4 linked regions of the Homo sapiens genome follow. The protein of the gene in region 2 purifies or fractionates together with the protein of the main gene of each other region. This does not show direct contact. Each region holds a gene or a part of one and is shown on either strand. Other genes may lie near its edges.

What was found. Proteins that work in one complex are often made in the same cells at the same time.
Region 1: the proteins of RAD23B (region 2) and PSMC6 fractionate together in Homo sapiens (co-fractionation; 4 studies listed by BioGRID and IntAct, with this or other methods). This does not show direct contact.
Region 3: the proteins of RAD23B (region 2) and CORO1C purify together in Homo sapiens (affinity purification with western blotting; 2 studies listed by BioGRID, with this or other methods). This does not show direct contact.
Region 4: the proteins of RAD23B (region 2) and POU5F1 purify together in Homo sapiens (affinity purification with western blotting; 2 studies listed by BioGRID, with this or other methods). This does not show direct contact.

Annotation. Positions count from the first base shown.
Region 1 is NC_000014.9:52,716,871-52,721,537, reverse strand, and holds part of PSMC6 (26S proteasome regulatory subunit 10B), read right to left. Parts: intron 3,458-4,667; coding exon 3,396-3,457; intron 3,310-3,395; coding exon 3,186-3,309; intron 2,562-3,185; coding exon 2,500-2,561; intron 678-2,499; coding exon 557-677; intron 429-556; coding exon 348-428; intron 1-347. UniProt on the Homo sapiens protein: Component of the 26S proteasome, a multiprotein complex involved in the ATP-dependent degradation of ubiquitinated proteins.
Region 2 is NC_000009.12:107,299,448-107,304,114, reverse strand, and holds part of RAD23B (UV excision repair protein RAD23 homolog B), read right to left. Parts: intron 3,975-4,667; coding exon 3,893-3,974; intron 2,081-3,892; coding exon 2,001-2,080; intron 1-2,000. UniProt on the Homo sapiens protein: Multiubiquitin chain receptor involved in modulation of proteasomal degradation. Binds to polyubiquitin chains.
Region 3 is NC_000012.12:108,650,681-108,655,347, forward strand, and holds part of CORO1C (coronin-1C), read right to left. Parts: intron 3,731-4,667; coding exon 3,626-3,730; intron 1,738-3,625; coding exon 1,592-1,737; intron 1-1,591. UniProt on the Homo sapiens protein: Plays a role in directed cell migration by regulating the activation and subcellular location of RAC1. Increases the presence of activated RAC1 at the leading edge of migrating cells.
Region 4 is NC_000006.12:31,167,045-31,172,479, forward strand, and holds the start of POU5F1 (POU domain, class 5, transcription factor 1), read right to left. Parts: upstream 3,639-5,435; 5' UTR 3,577-3,638; coding exon 3,172-3,576; intron 127-3,171; exon of another isoform or gene 1-126. UniProt on the Homo sapiens protein: Transcription factor that binds to the octamer motif (5'-ATTTGCAT-3'). Forms a trimeric complex with SOX2 or SOX15 on DNA and controls the expression of a number of genes involved in embryonic development such as YES1, FGF4, UTF1 and ZFP206.

The DNA of each region.
Region 1 (4,667 bases), on a different chromosome or scaffold from region 2:
TGAGCCACCATGCCCGCCCCCCACTTTCTTGCTTTATTTTTCTCCATAGCACTTATCATCATCTATTATACTTTGTTTTACTAACTTTATCTGTTTTTTCCTAACAAGAATATAAGTTCTCTAATGGCAGAAATTTGTCTGTTTTGTTCCTTGCTATATTGTCAGCCCTTACAAAACACTTACAATGGTTCCTAGCTTATAGTAGATGCTCAATAACTATTTGCTGAATTTAAAACCACCACATTTGCTGAATTTAAAACCAGATTTAGGAAACTATCAGTAATTTCTAAAAGTATTTTTCTTCATTTACCAAATGTAAATACATATAAAATAGATGACTTCCTTACCTATTTCACCATGCTTTGTAATGGGACCTGCATGGATTTTCAGTATGTCTAATCTTGCTTGTTCATTTGGCAAATCAATATCTGAAAATAAAAAATTATTTTATAGTCCAGTTTTATCTTTTTTAAAATACAGTGGAAGGTGAAGTGAAGTATGGAAAAAGAAATGGGCACAAAGGGAAATGGACAGTAGGTAAAGAATCTTAACTCACGTATTTTTCTATCTAATCTTCCTGGACGCAGCAAAGCAGGATCCAGTGTATCTGGTCTGTTTGTAGCCATGATCATTTTAACTCTATGCAGAGTATCAAATCCATCCATTTGATTCAGTAACTAAGAATATTAAGAATCAGATTTTACAAAAATTCTAACCATTAAAAAAAATAGCACACACCTTTTATATGTCTAATGCCATGAAATGTATTGTCTACAGATAGATATGTTCTATCTTCAGAATGGTCATTTGATAGAATTCTTTTTCTCTCTCTTATATAAAGGGATATACTTTCTAGCCTCAAAGTTCTAAGCTAGATTATGTACCTTTTAATAGCTATGTATCTTTCTATAGCTACCAGGTAGTTTTAATAAATCTGAAGGCTTCCATCATGTCAAGAATTATGAAATTAAACTATGTGGATCTAATTTCCAATGTCCAAAATTTCATCAATTATTTTTTAAAGGAAAAGCTAATAATAAAATCCAATATATAAAGTGCTTATGATATGTCAGACATAACATTTATATTAGGATAAATGGATACAAAGATTTTTCTACAAATTTGATAATAAACTGATAATTTTTTTTTTTTTTTTTTTTTTTTTTTTTTGAGACAGAGTTTCACTCTGTCACCCAGGCTGGAGTACTGTGGCCTGATCATCGCTCACTGCAACCTTCACCTCCTGGGCTCGACCAGTCCTCCCACCTCAACCTCCTGAGTAGCTGGGACTGCTTTTTTTTTTTTTTTTTTTTTTGGAGACAGACTCTCGCTCTGTCACCCAGGCTGGAGTGCAATGGGGCGATCTCAGCCCACTGCAACCTCACCTCCTGGGTTCAAGCAATTCTCCTGCCTCAGCCTCCTGAGTAACTGGGATTACAGGCACACGCCACCACGCCCAGCTAATTTTTGTATCTTTACTAGAGATGGTGTTTCGCTACGTTGGTCAGGCTGGTCTCAATGCTCAGACCTCATGATCTGCCCAGCTGGGCCTCCCAAAGTGCTGGGATTACAGGCAGAAGCCACCATGCCTGGCCTATTTTTTCAAATAATTCTACTGTACACAGAAATACTAAAAGACATAAAAAATATTGTCCTCAATTTCTAAAGTTTTCTTGAATAAATGAAAAACCTTACTGCATTTAACAAACTCTCTAAAATATAGCTAGTCTGACAATGTGTTAGTTGATGATATATTAGTTACTTGAATAAAATGAGTATTTGTGTTATTTAAAAATATCTCAATTTAAGGTTTCTAAGAGATTTTATAATTTCCAAATGCTATGTTATCTTCTGAGCGGATCTGTATAATTTATGAAAAAAGATTTTTCAAATACTTCTAAGGAGAAAGAATTTGACACTGCATTACCCATGCTACCTAGTTTCTATTTGAAGTGGAAAATGTATTTGGACTCTTGATATCACTTTCACAGAATTTGGAGTGGGGAAAGGTAAAACTGGAGGAAGGCTTTATGTGCATTCTTTCATTCTGTCATCTATCCTCTTCAATTATCAAAACTATTTTAGTTGCCTCAGTCTCAGCAATAAAGTGAGAGAAAAAAATAATTTTTAGAGCAGCTTCATACATAATTATAGCTCATTTATTGCCAACAGTCTTAATATGACCATTACAAAAAATGTCTTCATAAAACTACCGCAAGATCACATTCATAAGAATTTAAATATATGAATGACTGATCTACTCAAAAAAACACAGAATAGTACAGGTGTATACCAAATGGAATTTGGCAGATAGCCTTATTTTCCAGTAGTCATTTTCTTAGAGTTTGTGATAGAGAAACATGTTTGTTCCTGACAATATTTTCAAATTTCATATTTCATTTAAAATGTTCTATATATTTTGACTATCAAATATGCAATGTTCAGTTCTTCATTTAATAAACATTGGTTTCTTTATAAACCCCCTTTACCAAATATTACCTCCATTAACGTTCTCTGAATCTCTCTGTCAGCTGAAGTACCCTCAGAAAACCGACGACCACCTAAGATAGTAGATTTGGAAATTTATATGCATTACTCTTTTCCTCTACAACCATCATTTAAGAAAACAGAACATAACAGTCTGTGGCTTAAAACATTAAGATGAAAATTAAAGAGCAAGAATTATGCTGACAAAGTTAGACTTGATTTTGGTGTAACATTTCTCATTTTGTTAAAGTGAAAGGTTATTTATTGAGACGGAGTCTCGCTCTGTCGCCAGGCTGGAGTGCAGTGGTGTGATCTCGGCTCACTGCAACCTACGTCTCCTGGGTTCAAGCGATTCTCGTGCCTCAGCCTCCTCAGTAGCTGGGATTACAGGCATGTGCCACCACATCCAGCTAATTTTTGTATTTTTAGTAGAGACAGGGTTTCACCATGTTGGCCAGATGGTCTCGATCTCCTGACCTGGTGATCTGCCCACCTTGGCCTCTCAAAGTGCTGGGATTACAGGCATGAGCCACCACACCCGGCCATGAAAGGTTATTTATTAAAATTGGTTAAACTAACATCTGATTCATTGTGGTATCTACTTCATACAAGTCACAATTACAGATTAAGAGAGGGAAAAAGGTTCTTTTACATTTAAAAAAAAGTCCTAAAACTTTCAACAAGGGTGTTATTCTTACCAATAGCATCTATTTCATCCATAAAAATGATGCATGGTTGATGATCTCTAGCATAATTAAACATTTCTCTGATCAAACGAGCACTTTCACCAATGTACTTGTCTACAATAGAACTAGATACAACCTGATTAAAGGAAAAACAGTAAGGTAAATATAAGATAATTCAAGTAAAATTAAATTTCAATAAGTACAAAATAATCTTCCCTTTACCTTTAAGAAATTGCAGTCCAGCTGGCTAGCAACGGCTCGTGCCAAGAGTGTTTTTCCCGTACCTAAGAATGACAAAAGAAGTCTTAATTAGATGGTAAGGTAGAAAAAAATTTGTTTTGAGACAGGCAATCACTCTGTCACCTAGGCTGGAGTGTGGCGAGATCACAGCTCACTGCAACCTTGACCTCCCAGACCTAAGCGATTTTCCCACCTCAGCCTCCCAAGTAGCTGGGATGACAGGCATGTGCCATCACGCACAGCTAAGTTTTTTGTTTGTCTGTTTGTTTTTCAGAGACGGGGTCTCTCTGTGTTGCGCAGGCTGGTCTTGAACTCTTGGGCTCAGGTGATCCTGCCACTTCAGCCTCCCAAAGTGCTGGGATTACAGGCAGGAGCCACCGCACCCGGCCTATGTGAAACAAATTTTTAAAATCCTTTTAAGAATATAATCGTTTGGCAAGTAAATTTTCCAAAATGAAAGCTAAATCCTAAATAGAATTTTCATTTAAAATTCCAAAGTACTTGGCCAGGTGTGGTGGCTCACACCTGTAATCCCAGCACTTTGGGAGGCTGAGGCGGGCAGATCACAGGGTCAGGAGATCGAAACACAGTGAAACCCCGTCTCTACTAAAAATACAAAAAATTAGCTGAGCGTGGTGGCACATGCCTGTAGTCCCACCTACTGGGGAGGCTGAGGCAGGAGAATCGCTTGAATCCGGGAGGTGGGGGTTGCAGTGAGCTTATAATCTCGCCACTGCACTCCAGCCTGGGTGACAGAGCAAGACTCTGTCTCAAAAAAAAAAAAAAAAAAAAAATTCCAAAGTACTTCTGCTGTCAACATTAAAATTTTAATCAAAATGTTATAATTTTTAAAATCTATTTTAAATTGACAAATAAATTGTATATTTATGGGTTAAATTATGATACATGTATATATTGAAGAATGATTAAATCAGGCAAATCAACATATCCATCACCTCACATGCTTAGCATTACTTTGTGGTTAGAACATTTAAAATCTACTTTTAGCAATTTTGAAATAGCTAATACATTATTAATTATAGTCACCATGCTATGCAATATGTCACCTAGAACTTATTCCTCCTGTCTAAGTGAACTTTATATCCTTTGACCAACATCTCCCCTATCCCCATACACCACCACAACTTCTGGTAACCACCATTCTACTCTTGGTTTCTACGAGTTCAATTTTTTAAGATTCCACATGAAAATGAGATTATGTGGTAACTGTCTTTCTGTGTCTGGCTTATTTCA
Region 2 (4,667 bases):
TTAATAAGGTCATTTCTCAGTGCTTCCATAATGCCTTACTGTAGCAGCATTCCCTCCCTTTTCATAGTTGTCCTCTATTAACTTCAAATAAAACAATCATAAATATCATTAGAATCCTATGTAATATTAGGAATAAAAGACTTTAAGGAAAAACAAAAGGACTGTATGCAATATAATGATAGGCTTCAAGTATCTATTCCTCAAACACACGCACCTATTGAGACTTTTTCTGCTTAATTCTTGTGTTCTAAACAGTCAGGATCACTGTAATATTAAAAGAAACTAAGACCAGTAACAAAACATATTTAAATGTGTGGCTATCACATTTCCCATTATGTACTATGTATGCTAAAACTAGATAGGAAAATAGGATAGTATTCAGTCTTAAAAGTTCAGCAAATTCTGGCACAAGCTATAACATAGACAGATGAACCTCAATGACATTATGCTAAGTGAAATAAGCCAGTCACAAAAAGACAAATACCATAGGATTCCACTTATATGATGGTGATAGCTGCAAAACAATGTAACTATAATGTTATTGAACTGTACACTTAAAATGATTAAACTGGAAGTTTGTTATATTTTACCACAGTTGAATAAAAAAACCTAGATGATACAAGGTTTCCTCACGATTCTGCTTGTTTTTAAACTTAACATATAATGACTTAAGTTCTTAAGTATAGCAAAATCAACATGGTTCTTAATGAATTAAAAAATGTTCAACACTTGTAAACTATTTAGCTGCTTGCTCCCAGTACAAAAGCATGTGGTAATTAGAATTTATTTCTTCGACTCTATTTTCTATTACTATTAACTATTTTGTGACTTTGAGAAAAAACCCACATTTAATCCACTTTTGGCCTTTGATGAAGTGGTTTCAATTAGTGATTTAAACTCATTTTCAGTGCTACAAGTAACACTGTTCTTTCTCAGATTATGACAATCCAATCCTAAAAATGAATGTCATGAGTACCACTTCTCCATTTGTCTCTTAATTCTACACTGCATTATATATCTTTAAATAAACAAGTATATAAATAGTCTCTTAAAAAAATCCATGTTCATTCTCTGCTTTAAAAAAAATTTAATTTTATAAATTGTTCCAAATACATTCCAGCCTACTAAATCACAAAAAAGTATCTGTTTAAAACTTCCAGGCTGGGCGCGGTGGCTCACGCCTGTAATCCCAGCACTTTGGGAGGCCGAGGCGGGCGGATCACGAGGTCAGGAAATCGAGACCATCCTGGCTAACACGGTGAAACCCTGTCTCTACTAAAAATACAAAAAAATTAGCCGGGCGTGGTGGCATGCGCCTGTAGTCCCAGCTACTAGGGAGGCTGAGGCAGGAGAATGGCATGAACCCGGGAGACAGAGCTTGTAGTGAGCCAAGACAGCGTCACTGCGCTCCAGCCTGGGCAACAGAGCGAGACTCCGTCTCAAAAAAAAAAAAACAAAACAAAAACAAAAAAAACTTCCTCATAAAAATCATTCCATCATTTCTTTAGTTATCTTTTCCCTTTTTTTAGTTTCTAAAAACATATTCTTTCACTAAGAACTATCACTGTAATAATAAGCTTTCATGCCTTTTCTGTCTTGAGGAATCTGTTAGGACTAGTACGTAATTTAGCAGGTCTATTTAAGGCAAGCTTACAAAAACTACAGAATAAACATTTATTCCACTTATAAAGACATTTTAAAAGAATTATATAATGATTTCACTACTGTAGCAAAAATAATTTTAACATGACATTTTATTTTTCAATTGTTTTAATTTACATAAAATTTTATTAAAACTATATTATAGTTTAATGTGTAATTAATGTAAAACATTAATAACTTTATGTTTCACTTAAGGTAAATTCTTAAAAACCTTTCATAGTAGTTAAGTGTACACCACTATGGATGTGTATAAACTGTGTCCATTGTGTGGACTTGTGATCATCATTTTTAAAAAGACCTACATGCATAAAGATATACAGAATGAGGTTGAAACTTACTTTGGTCACCATAACCACCACAAAGTTTTTCTCATCAATTTTATATTCTTTGAGAGCAGTATCATCATTGAGGATTTTGCCTAATACATTAAGAGAAAAAAAAATCATTTAAGGCATAATCTTTCTCTTACACTTCAGTTAAAACAACTTTCTACTCGAAATATGAATATTTCAGAAATATTAAAATATGAATCACCAACATAAATTCTATCAGTTAATACTTTTCCCAAAGAAAAACCAATCAATCAAGATAAAAATAAAACAACTCCTAAGTGGCAGGGCATGGTGGCTCACACCTGTAATCCCAACACTTTGGTAGGCTGAGGAGGAAATATAGCTTGAGGCCAGGAGTTTGAAACCAGCATGGCCAACATAGCAAGACCCTGTTTATGAAAAAAAAAAATTCAAAATTAGCCAGGCATTGTGGCACATGCCTATGGTCCTAGCTACTTGGGAGGCTGAGGCAGGAGGATCACCTGAGCTCAGGAGTTCAAGGATACAGCGAGTATAATCACACCACTGCACTCCAGCTTGGGTGACAGAGCAAGACCCTCTCTCAAACAAATAAAACTAAAAAGCATAAGCATTTGACTAAAAGATGTCAAACTTATATAGTGTATATAGAATGACAATCAATTTTTACAAATGTATTGATTATATAAAAGACTTACTGGGCAAGGAAATATGAAAGAGGCCCTGAAAAGGAGGAGATCATGAAGATAAAGAAAATTCAATACTCCGATTGCACAGGGGTCCTCTGGAAAATAACCTATATTCTTTTATGATATGAAGAAAGGGAGAGAAACAAATTTCCTGCTCCCCAAAATACTGATATCTGATAAATCAGAAATGTTCTAACACTATCAAAGCAAGATACTAAAAGTACTTCAGAAAACGACATGATACACAAGAAAGGGCAAGATGCTACAGAACTTAGAAATGCACGAAGTACACAAAACTGTGGTCGTGCTGAAGGTCACTATTAGGTAGCTAGGACTCTCTAGTGTTTCTTGCTACATGAATTTAGTTTTCCACCTTTAAAAAGCTATTGAATCAAAAGCTGCTAACATTAAGTCAGAAAGGAATATGGATAGGAATGAGAAAACAGGCCAAAACAAGAAACTGGAAATTTGAATTTTATGTCCGCTTCTTTAGGCTTCTGAATTCTGACCTATAAAAATAATGGGACTGAATCACCAGGTTAGCATTTCCTCCAGGCTGTCTCACTTTAGGAAACACTATTCAGAAAAAGAGAAGAATCCATGGGTGATCAAACACCCACCTTACTAACATCTACAATGAAAGCATTTTCTCTAAAAATTTGGATATCAAATGTATTTTTAATATACATTTTCCTGGTTATTAGTGAGGCTAGTCAAATGTATAATTCCTACTCTTATCCTTTGTTGCTTTATTGGTCATCCTTTCCTTACTGATTTCTAAGAATTCTTTACATAATCTGAATATTAATTTTTTTTCTTCCTGTAGGTGTCTGTGTGATGTGTTTTTTCTGTACTCTTCAGTTAGTTTTGGTTAAAATAATTTTACAGGAATGATTCCAAGCATACTAATAATAACACAATCAGTATAAATGGTTTCAATTCAATTTAAAAAAAAAAGCTCCGTTTGATTAAAAAAACAAAAGCCAGTTACACGATGCTTACAAAAGATAAAACAAAACTAATACCATTTGATGGAAAAATACACAGGGCAAATGTGAATAAAGAGAAGATTGAATATTAATATTAGATTCAAATGACTGCTCTTTCACTGCTTTTATTTGTACAATCATTTTTCTGACAATTTGAATATACTACAATATATAAGATAACATTTCTAAAACTAAAAGAATATCAAGACATGGCATGTTAATTTTAATATTTAATTCATACCTGCATAAATTAATTTTTGACCTGCTACTGGAAAGGCATCTTTCCCCTTTTCAGATTCAATCTTCTCTTTCAGTGCTTTCACCTATAGGAAAAATAAAGATTTGTTTTGGAAAAAGTCTAAATAAAAAATGACAATCCAGAATCTGAATAAATAATGGAAGACAAAAATTATATACATAATTATTAATGTTTCCAAAACCTCAAATATTATGTTTTTCCAATTTATATCAAAAAAGATTCAACATTAACTCATATTACTAGTTATGATAGCCATAAACTTTAACACCATCTGATACACACAGATTTTTAAAAATTTACTAGTTGAACTGATAATTTAAAATAAAGTTTTCAACATCAAAGTTTTGGTTTATATACTGTTCATGGGTTTATTTCCCACGGAGCAAGAAAGTAAAGCTTGATCACCTAAAAAATCTAAGAAATAAAACAGTCTCATCAACAATAAGAATACTTCAATGTTAAAGGTTAAATTGTGAATGTTAAAAGGCAAATGATTCATTTTAAGTGTTATGTTTCATTACAATCACCAGGGGGACTTTACAAACACCAATTAAAACATAATCTCTGAGAGTGGGACCTTGACATCAGTATTTTTAAAAAGTTTTACAGGTGTTTCCAAAGTTCAGCCCAGGCTGAAAACCTCCAGACAACTTCAATGCTCTTAAACAAGCAGCTTAGCTTCTCTCAGCATCAGCTTCATTCATCTGTAAGAGGAGCTGGAATCCATGACCTTTATAGTCTCTTCATTTCCTAAAAT
Region 3 (4,667 bases), on a different chromosome or scaffold from region 2:
GCAAGTAGCATATTTAGCACAGTCCTGGCATACAATAAATGCTCAAGAAACACTTCATAAATCGGAGACATTCTGAACAACTGTGTTTATAGTCTGTCGAACTTTTAGATGACAACAAATGTGTTTCAAAATATTGGATGTAATCATAAATTTGAATTCAGTCTATTTTGAACCATATTTTGATTAGTTTGGTTTAAACCACAATTTTCAATTATCTTTAACAGCTTTCCTTCATTATTCCAACTAAAAAAAAAAAATCACATAGAGAGTTTTGGTTTGTTTGTTTTTGTTTGTTTGAGACGGAGTCTCGCTGTGTTGCCCAGGCTGGAGTGCAGTGGCACCATCTCGGCTCACTCCGCCTCCTGGGTTCAAGTGATTCTCCTGACTCTGCCTCCCAATTAGCTGGGATTACAGGCACCCACGACCACACATAGCAAATTTTTTATTTTTAGTAGAGATTAATATAAAAAAGGGGCTTATAAAAATTCTCTTCCTTTTATTTGGAAGACGTAAGTATCAATTCTTTAATTGTGAGACCAGAACAGCAAGCGTTTTAAAAGTCCACATAAACACAGTGTTACACAAATGTTTGGTACGACCTTATATGTGATGATGTAGTGCTAATTATTCTGTTGTTTGAAATGGCCAGTGGTCACTGAGTCTCAGAGGATATATTTGTTGACTAGCATGAGAAAAAAGCCTGTCCCTTAGGAAGCCTGCTAGCATTTAGAATATGAATTTTCTAAAAATCAGAAGTAGTACAGAGAGGTAGAAATTATATCATAGCTGAACTTCCTAAATCAAGCTAACCTACCGCCCCATTATAGGACCTTTGGTTTCTCTATTTTAGGACCAGTGGGGCCCCAAATACAGTTTTGACTCTGGTTCTTCCACTCATAGGGTAGGAAAACCACCCACTTTTCCATCCCCGAGCCAGGCTCTCCCTACTTGCCCACCAGGGAACGCTGACCATGGCCTCAGCTTGAAGATTAAAGATGCATGTTTCACTATTTCAGTAGGTGTGCAATACACCCCAGCTATGCTGCTTCATTGTTGCACTTCAGTTATATGGGCAGGAAATGAGGTATTAATTCCACAGTACACACAAGGATAGAAAGACTTGGGCTTCATAGAATTTCTTGTAGCTGTATTGCTCTGGTATCACCAGGCATTCAGGTGATGATAAAAAGTGAGATGTGCCGGGTGTGGTGGTGGGCGCCTGTAATCCCAGCTACTTGGAAGGCTAAGGCAGGAGAATTGCTTGAACCAGGGAGGCGGAGGTTGCAGTGAGCTGAGATCACACCACTGCACTCCTGCCTGGGCAACAGAGCCAGACTCCGTCTCAAAAAAAAAAAAGTGAGATTTTTTTCTTTTCTTTTTTTTTTTTTTTTGAGATTTTTTTCTAATGAAGAAACTCAGTTTTAGTGATATCCTTAGAAAGTGCCATCTCATGGCAATGTGTACAATTCTACTACTTTCTTGCTCAGAATGGTCAGATATTTTTGAGATCTGAAGTATATGCTAGTCCAAGTACAAATAATTGTCACACAGTTACACCAACCTAGAATACTTGACAATCTCGATTCTTTACCTGGCAATCTCACATTTGTTAACATCAAGTCCCCTCTTGGGCATGTAACCCATCCCTCTCTGAGGCTCCTTGCTGCTGAATGTGTTGAGGTAGTGGACGTACGGGGATTCATCCGTGATCTCAAAATAGCGAATACTGCTGTCACCCTGTAAGAAACCAGAGACAAGTCTGTGTCTGATTGTTAACTGAAACATCTGGATTATGGGGGTGTCTCTCTCCTCTACAAACCCAGCAGTAGTTGGGACCCCGCTTCAGTAGCTGACCTTTTCTTCCTCATAAAGAGGCTTGCCTAAAGCATATAAAAGTTTCTTTTCCTCACAAAGTAACCCCTTACTTATCAAATGCTAGCATGCCTTTTAAGTGGTCTCCTCAGCCTCCTGGCTCCTGGCTCTAATTTTACTCCCCTGAGCCTAGGCACCAGGCCAGGGTTAGGGCAAAAATGTTAATGCCTCTGCCAAACAGCTACATTGCAATTCAACTGTGAAAAACAAACAAACAAACAAAGACTAAGAGGACTGCTGAGAATGCAATTATTGATTTAAGTATTCATTTACTGGCATAACGCAATGCTGTTATGCCAGTATGATGATAAAAAGTGAGATTTTTCTAATGAAGAAACTCAGTTTTAGTGAGTATCCTCAGAAAGTGCCATCTCATGGCAATGTGTACAATTCTACTACTTTCTTGCTTAGAATAGTCAGATATCTTTGAGTACTGAAGCATATGTTAGTCTAAGTACAAATAATTGTCACACAGTTACACCAACCTGAACAATGACGGCAATCTTGTCTGGCAGAGAGGAGATATACATATATGTAAGAAAGAAGAAGGCAAAAATAGCTAGGTGGTATCATGCCTCAACAGTGCTCCCAGTTCTCATGATTTCCATTTGTCTCAATGACTGAGATATCTAAAGCAATGGAAAAGAAGCTAAACCCTTACTAGTCATTTCTGCATGCCCAAAAGAATTTTCCATCTCATGTTACTAATATCTGAGTAACTGCTCATTTTGTTTGTTTTAATTCAGTCAAGGGCAACAACAGCAAGGTAAATGCACTTAACACCTGTTAACATCTGCAGTAAAATGGCTTTCAAGGAAACAGACAAGATCTCCATTTCTAAAACAATGACCTATAAAAATGTAAAGCAGGTCTGCAGCATGCTCAATCAGCTATGAAAAGCAAACACCAGCTTTACCACCCAGTGAAGGGCTATCTAACAGGTCTAGGGACTACCTCAACAGCTCCACTGTTATTAATTCATTTATTTCAACTACAAAAAGTTCTAAGGGAAATTGAGCCTACAAGAAAAAAAAGGGAACTATAAGGTTCCCACTTACAAAAATGAAATAATAAAGCTACCCACAGTCTAGGTATGCTGAGCTCATAAGGCAGGAGGAAGGTTTTTGGAGTTCAGTGTGGAGTCTCCCTATAACTGTTATCACCCCTGAGCTTTAGTCAGGCCTCATATCTTCAAGCCCAGAGCCCTAGCACTGAACCCCAGGAACAAGAACCCTCTGGAGAGTCTCTGAGGCCCTCAAAAGTTTGCATCCACAAAGCACCATTCTCCTTCCAAGTCCATGGTGTGTGGTACTAAGTATACACATGCTCATCTAGGGTTATCCAACAAATTTCAGCATTAGATGTGGCCAACTGGTTGCCCATCCCTGACATAAGTACAGATAAATCTAAAATCACCAATCAGGTAGCACTGCTAGGTGAAGATGAAACACCAGTGTATCTTCTTTTTTTCACAAGAGCGCCCTGATTGGAGCATTTTCCCCAATACCCCAGCCCAACCTCTGCTTCAGTCAAAAGTATGCAACATGGCGTGTTATCACTGCACAACTGGCAAGCTGCACACAGTCCAGTCTCAAGACCTAAAAATACCAAATTATCTGTCCTTGGCTTATAACATACACACACAAATTAGAAAAATTAAACAGATACAACACATTGCCCGTCCTCTAAATCTCTGAAGGATAAATGTTTCCACTTACAGGATTTAACACCAAACATCAAAATTACTGTTTACCTTTCCACATAAGTAAATGATGCTGGTGTCAGGGTCATAGAAAGGCAGCAACACCCCATTGCTAGTGTCCATCTCATGAAGAGCAATTGGTTCCTGCATATTTTTCTGGGGGGAAGATAATAATAATACATATATGTGTATGTATACATTTTTTTAAAAATAAATTTTTATAACCTTATTATATATTCTTCTATCCCAATTAAGCGAGCCATTTTCCTAGAATAACAGAAGTTTGAACTATGCACATACAATACTCATACATGGAAACAGCAACAGGGATGCTAAATGAGATCCAACTCACAAAATTTCACTGATTTGACAACATAATGCGCGCATACATCAGCGTGATTTCATGACAATGATGAGAAAGCCCTTCTCCTTTGTTACTGTTTTCTTTTTCTTTTTTTTTTTTTTAAAGACTGAGTCTCCCTCTGTCGCCCAGGCTGGAGTGCAGTAGTGCTATCTCGGCTCACTGCAATCTCCGCCTCCCAAGTTCAAGCGATTTTCCTGCCTCAGCCTGGCAAGAGCTGGGATTATAGATAGGCACATGCCACCACCCGTGGCTAATTTTTGTATTTTTAGTAGACACAGAGTTTCACCATGTTGGCCAGGCTGGTCTCCAACTCCCAGCCTCAAGTGATCCAGCCACCTCAGCCTCCCAAAGTGCTGGGATTACAGGAATGGCCACTGCGCCTACCCTATTTTATTTTTTTAAAGTACTTCTTTAATTATAAAATATGTGTGCTTTTAAAAAGTTGAAAGATATAAAAAAGAACATAAAAATCATTCCATCAAAATCCTACAGCCCAGTGGGTGACAGAAGCTATTATCATTTTGATCTATTTCCTTCCGACACATGTACACAGAGATTGAGATGATAGAATGTATGTTGTATTTTTCCCCACTTAAGCTAATTATGAACATTTTCCCAAGCATGACTATTTTGATTTAGACAACTGATCATATTATTTATGAAATATGAACTTATTTTCCAAATCCAAAACACTAGATTCTTCATTCTTTTTAAAAAATATAGTCCCCT
Region 4 (5,435 bases), on a different chromosome or scaffold from region 2:
CTATAAGCCAGCGGCTATACAAAGTGGACAAAGAGCCCTGACATCCAGCATGACAGAAGTGCTATTTGGCACTTGTTCTTCAAGTTGCCCACTTGGATCTCTTCCAAGTGCACTTTCCTTTTTTCCCTGCCCTATAACTTTTTAATAATAAACTTCCACTCCTGCTCTGAAAAATAAAAAAGTAAATAAAATAAAAAATGGCCAGGCACAGTGGCTCATGTCTGTAAATCCTAGCACTTTGGGAGGCCAAGGTGGGCAGACTGCTTGAGCCCAAGAGTTAGAAAGCAGCCTGGGTAACATAGTGAGACCCGTGCCGCCCCTTCTCCCACCCCTGCTGCCTCTATTTAAAATATATATATATATTATGGAAAAAAGTAAAGCAGTCTGGGCGCAGTGGTCATGCCTGTAATCCCTTCACTTTGGGAGGCCAAGGTGGGTAGATCACTTGAGGTCAGGAGTTCAAGACTAGCCTGGTCAACATAGTGAGACTCTGTCTCTACTAAAAATACAAAAATTAGCTGGGCATCATGGCGCTCCCCTATAATCCCAGCTACTCAGGAGGCTGAGGCAGGAGAATTGCTTGAACCTAGGAGGTGGAGTTTGCAGTGAGCCAAGATCGCACCACTGCACTCCAGCCTGAGGGACAGAGTGAGACTCCATCTCAAAAATTAAAAAAAAAATAAAGCAGTCTATAGGAGTAGGGTAAAGGAGGGAAGGAGATTATGGAGGAGGGTGACACTTTTAAAGACAGAGAAGGTGATTGTTTGAGCAAAGGACAAGAGTCTAATGTGGCAAGGCCCTGAAGTGGGCCTTCCAGAGCCCAAAGCTGGTCTGGTGGCTAGGTAGATCCTGTTGCAGACATAGTGACTTTGTTTTAGTCCAAGCGAAATGATCTCTCACCCTTTTTCTCCCCACCAAGACGGAATCTCGTTCTATCGCCCAGGCTGGAGTGCTGTGGCGTGATCTTGGCTCACTGCAATCTCCGCCTTCTGGGTTCAAGCTATTCTGCCTCAGCCGCCTGAGTAGCTGGGACTACAGGCACCCACCACCATGCCCGGCTAATTTTTGTATTTTTAGTAGATATGGGGTTTCACCATGTTGGCCAGGCTGGTCAGGAGACCTCAAGTGATCTGTCCACCTTGGCCTCCCAAAGTGCTGGGATTACAGGTGTGAACCACCGCACCTAGCCTCACCTTTTTTTTTTTTTTTTTTGAGAGTTTCGCTTTTGTTGCCTAGGCTGGAGTGCACTGGCGCGATCTCGGCTCACCGCAACCTCCATCTCCCAGGTTCAAGCGATTCTCCTGCCTCAGCTTCCTGAGTAGCTGAGATTACAGGCATGCGTCACCACGCCCAGCTAATTTTGTATTTTTAGTAGAGATGGGGTTTCGCCATGTTGGTCAGGCTGGACTCGAACTCCCGACCTCAGGTGATTCGCCTGCCTCGGCCTCCCAAAGTGCCTGGCCACACCTTTTAAAACACTGACTCTAGTTGACGTGTTGGCCACAGACAGTAGGGAGGAAGCAGTATAATTTGAGAAGCTACTGCGGTAATCCCAGCAGAGATGATGGTGGCTGAGGCCAGGGTTAGGTTGTGATTGATTCAGGATGTTTCTTAAGGATAGGATGTAGGACATGAAAGAAACTGAGGATGACTGGGTTTGGCCTTGAGCAACTGGGTGATCAGGGTGGAGCAGTTCAGGGAGCCATCACAAGAGACAGAAAACGCGGTAGTCATCTGGTGTCTAAATGGCATTTAAGCCTTGAGGGTGGGTGAGAGGAAGGAAGGGTAGATAGAGCAGAGGTTGAAGGACTGAGCCCTGGGGCATGCCATATGAGGCTGCCGGCAGACAGAGGTGCACAGCTAGTGAGAAAAAAACAAGGCCTTTTTGTAGTTCTGAAGCCTCAAGGAAGTGTTTCAATGGTGCTTGATCATATCAATTTCAAATAGGCTGTTTTCATCCCCAACTTCTGCTCAGCCAATAACTCAAACTGATAAATGCCCTCTGCTATCTTGGATTTTCCAAATTCTGTTTTGGGGTTTTGGAATAAACACTGGTCCAAATCCTCGCTTCATCATTTAGCAGTTAAAACCCGTTAAATAGGATAATAATACCTCCCCCTAGGAGATTTTGTGCTGGTTAATGAGATAATGATGTATAAACGGAGCACACAGCCAGGCACTTAGGAAGTGGACCACAATTGCCAGCCATTATCATTCAAGGCTCAGCAGTGACCTCCTGCGAAGAGGTTGGGGCTTCTCGGTCACTCCAGAAACCAGTCACACCTTTCTGTGAGGTCTCAAGGCTTAGTATTTAATCTCTAATTGCTTACACTTGTCGCCTTGAAGGACTGGAAGATACATCTTTAATAGTCCTCAGCAGGGCTGGATGCCTTCAATCCCGCAGCAGCTCTATATTTGCAAATGGCCTGGAGAAATCTCTCACCATTTTTCTTGTTTACAACTTTGGAACTGAGGCTGAAGTCAATCAAAATCCAGCTTTCTACAAGGGGTGCCAGGGTGTGCACCTTAACACAGTGGCCAGTCATTGGCCTGAGGCAGAGATCCGGGGAAGACAAGCCCTATACTTGACTGGAGGTAAACCCAGCTCACAACGCGCACACACACAGCCCAAACAGGAGATCCTATCAGAAACGAGTCACACCCTAGACTTTCAGGAACAATAATCCTGGAATGAGCACTGTTTTTACCCTCAGGCTATGCTTAACCCTAAGGCCAAAATCTTGGGTCTGATAAGGGTCAAATTTTCAAGCAGGACTAAGGGTGGGAAAAGGGGCTCAAACCAACCCCAAGCTGGGTCTGGTGCTGGGCCAGTAATGAGTGACCAGACCCTGGGCAGGCCTAGGAGATGTGAGAGACCCTGACAAGGGCTGGGCCAGAGCAAAGGCCAGCCTGGGCCAGCTTCCGACTCTCCCAGGCTGCTCTGCCCTCACCGGCAGTTGTCTCTTCGAAATCCAGCTTCCACTTCCCACCTGGCCCCTGCCTGCCAGGGCTGCCAGCAGTTGATACACACCCCTCCCTGGCCAGGGCAGCTGACCCTGCCTGCTCCTCTCCTGGGTGCCAGGTCTGGGCAGCTGCAGGTGACCACTTCCCCATCAGGCTGCCCTGTCATGACCACCTCCCCACACCCCAACCCCGTCGAAGCTCACTTGCCTCCTCCGGGTTTTGCTCCAGCTTCTCCTTCTCCAGCTTCACGGCACCAGGGGTGACGGTGCAGGGCTCCGGGGAGGCCCCATCGGAGTTGCTCTCCACCCCGACTCCTGCTTCGCCCTCAGGCTGAGAGGTCTCCAAGCCGCCTTGGGGCACTAGCCCCACTCCAACCTGGGGCCCACAGTACGCCATCCCCCCACAGAACTCATACGGCGGGGGGCATGGGGGAATCCCCCACACCTCAGAGCCTGGCCCAACCCCCGGCCCGATTCCTGGCCCTCCAGGAGGGCCTTGGAAGCTTAGCCAGGTCCGAGGATCAACCCAGCCCGGCTCCGGCCCCCCTGGCCCATCACCTCCACCACCTGGAGGGGGCGAGAAGGCGAAATCCGAAGCCAGGTGTCCCGCCATGGGGAAGGAAGGCGCCCCAAGCCGGGGGCCTGGTGAAATGAGGGCTTGCGAAGGGACTACTCAACCCCTCTCTCCCTCCCCAGTCCCACCCACTAGCCTTGACCTCTGGCCCCGCCCCCTGGATGGGTGGAGGAGAGGGAGGTGGGGGGAGAAACTGAGGCGAAGGATGTTTGCCTAATGGTGGTGGCAATGGTGTCTGTGGAAGGGGAAAACCGGGAGACACAACTGGCGCCCCTCCAGGACCTCAGTGCAGGTCCCCCACAGAAACTTTTTTTATTTTTATTTTTTAAGACAGGGTCTCACTTTGTTGCCCAGACTGGAGTGCAGTGGAGTACAATGATGGCTCAATGTAGCCTCGATCTACTGGGCCAAAGCAATCCTTCTGCTCCAGCCTCCTAAGTGGCTGGGACTACAGGCTTGGACCACTGTGCCCTGTTAGTTTTTTTATTTTTAGTAGAGATGGGGCCTTGCTATGTTACCCAGGCTGGTCTTGAATTCCTGTCCTCAAGAAATCCTCCCGCCTCTGCCGCCCAGTGTCATGATTAAAGGCGTGAGCCACCACACCCAACTTTCAACTCCCAACCCGCTCCCTGGCACTCTCTCAGGCTCTGCACATCCCAGCTGTCTGGAATCACTCCCACACCTCCATGTTCTTCAGGAACCCAGGTGCTTGACCCCCTCTCCACAGACCTCTGGCACTGTGCCTTCAGGGGCCAGTCACCCTCTCAGCTCCTCAAATTTATTGAATGTGTGTGTGGCGCTATCCCTCAATGCATCAACAGCCATAAGCACAATGGCCAGCTGCTCCCTTATGCCTTCCCCCGATCCATCCAGAATCCTAGGCATTCCCATCCCGATACTGGCCAAATCCAGCCACCCCGCAGCCTGGGTGCCTGGCACCATCTGCCCAGCCTGCCAAATTTCACCCCATCTTCAAGAGTAGACTGCCAGACAAGGCCTCCGTGCTATATCCCCCCACCCCCCCATCCCCCCACCCCTCCGTCTTCCAGAATCAGACTCCAGACTCTCCTCATCTAACAGACTAAGGGGTTGGTCCCTACTTCCCCTTCAAGGGACCAGACTTTGGACTGACTGGGCCTCAGTTTCCCAACCTTTGCTGAAACAGAGTGATAAGACACCCGCTTTGGGCCCCCTCCACTATGGAACCTGCACATCAGGTTCCTTGCTCCCCTCTCAACCAAAACTCAGACATCTAATACCACGGTAGGCCCCGTTCTCCCTCCCCCACCTCCCTGGCCCAGGCCTCCAGCCCTAGGCCCTGGGTGGGGAAAACCAGGGGGTGGGGGGTGTGGAGAAAAAATATCTGACTTCAGGTTCAAAGAAGCCTGGGAGGGACTGGGGGAAGGGGGCAGGACAATGGCCTTGGCTGGACAATCCCGGTCCCCAGAGGGGGCAGCTCTAACCCTAAACAAGTGCTCAACCCTTGAATGGGCCTGGATGGCTCCCCTGGGGACTGCTTCCTGCTCCCCAACCCCCCAGTCCCAATCCCCTCACACAGAATCCCCTTCAGAGACGCTAAAAGGAGCTCCAGCAACCCCCCTCTGCAATCCCCTCAAAGACTGAGCCTCAGACGGGCACCAAGGGCCCCCCACAGGGACCTAGGTATCTAGTTCCTCCTTCCTCTGGGGGACTCAGGCGTCCAGCTTCATCGTGCGTCCCTCCCCGAGCCTGGCAGATTGAGGGATGTGCTTTGTTTAGTGGGGCTGGCTGGCAGAAAGACGCAGAGGAGGTGGAGAGTGATTTGTGGAGGCGTGCAGGAAGGCTGCCCTAAGCTCCCCTTCAGGGTCTGTTTTTCTGGGCCTGGCCTGAGTATCCTGAGGCTCATGCTGCTGGTCTAG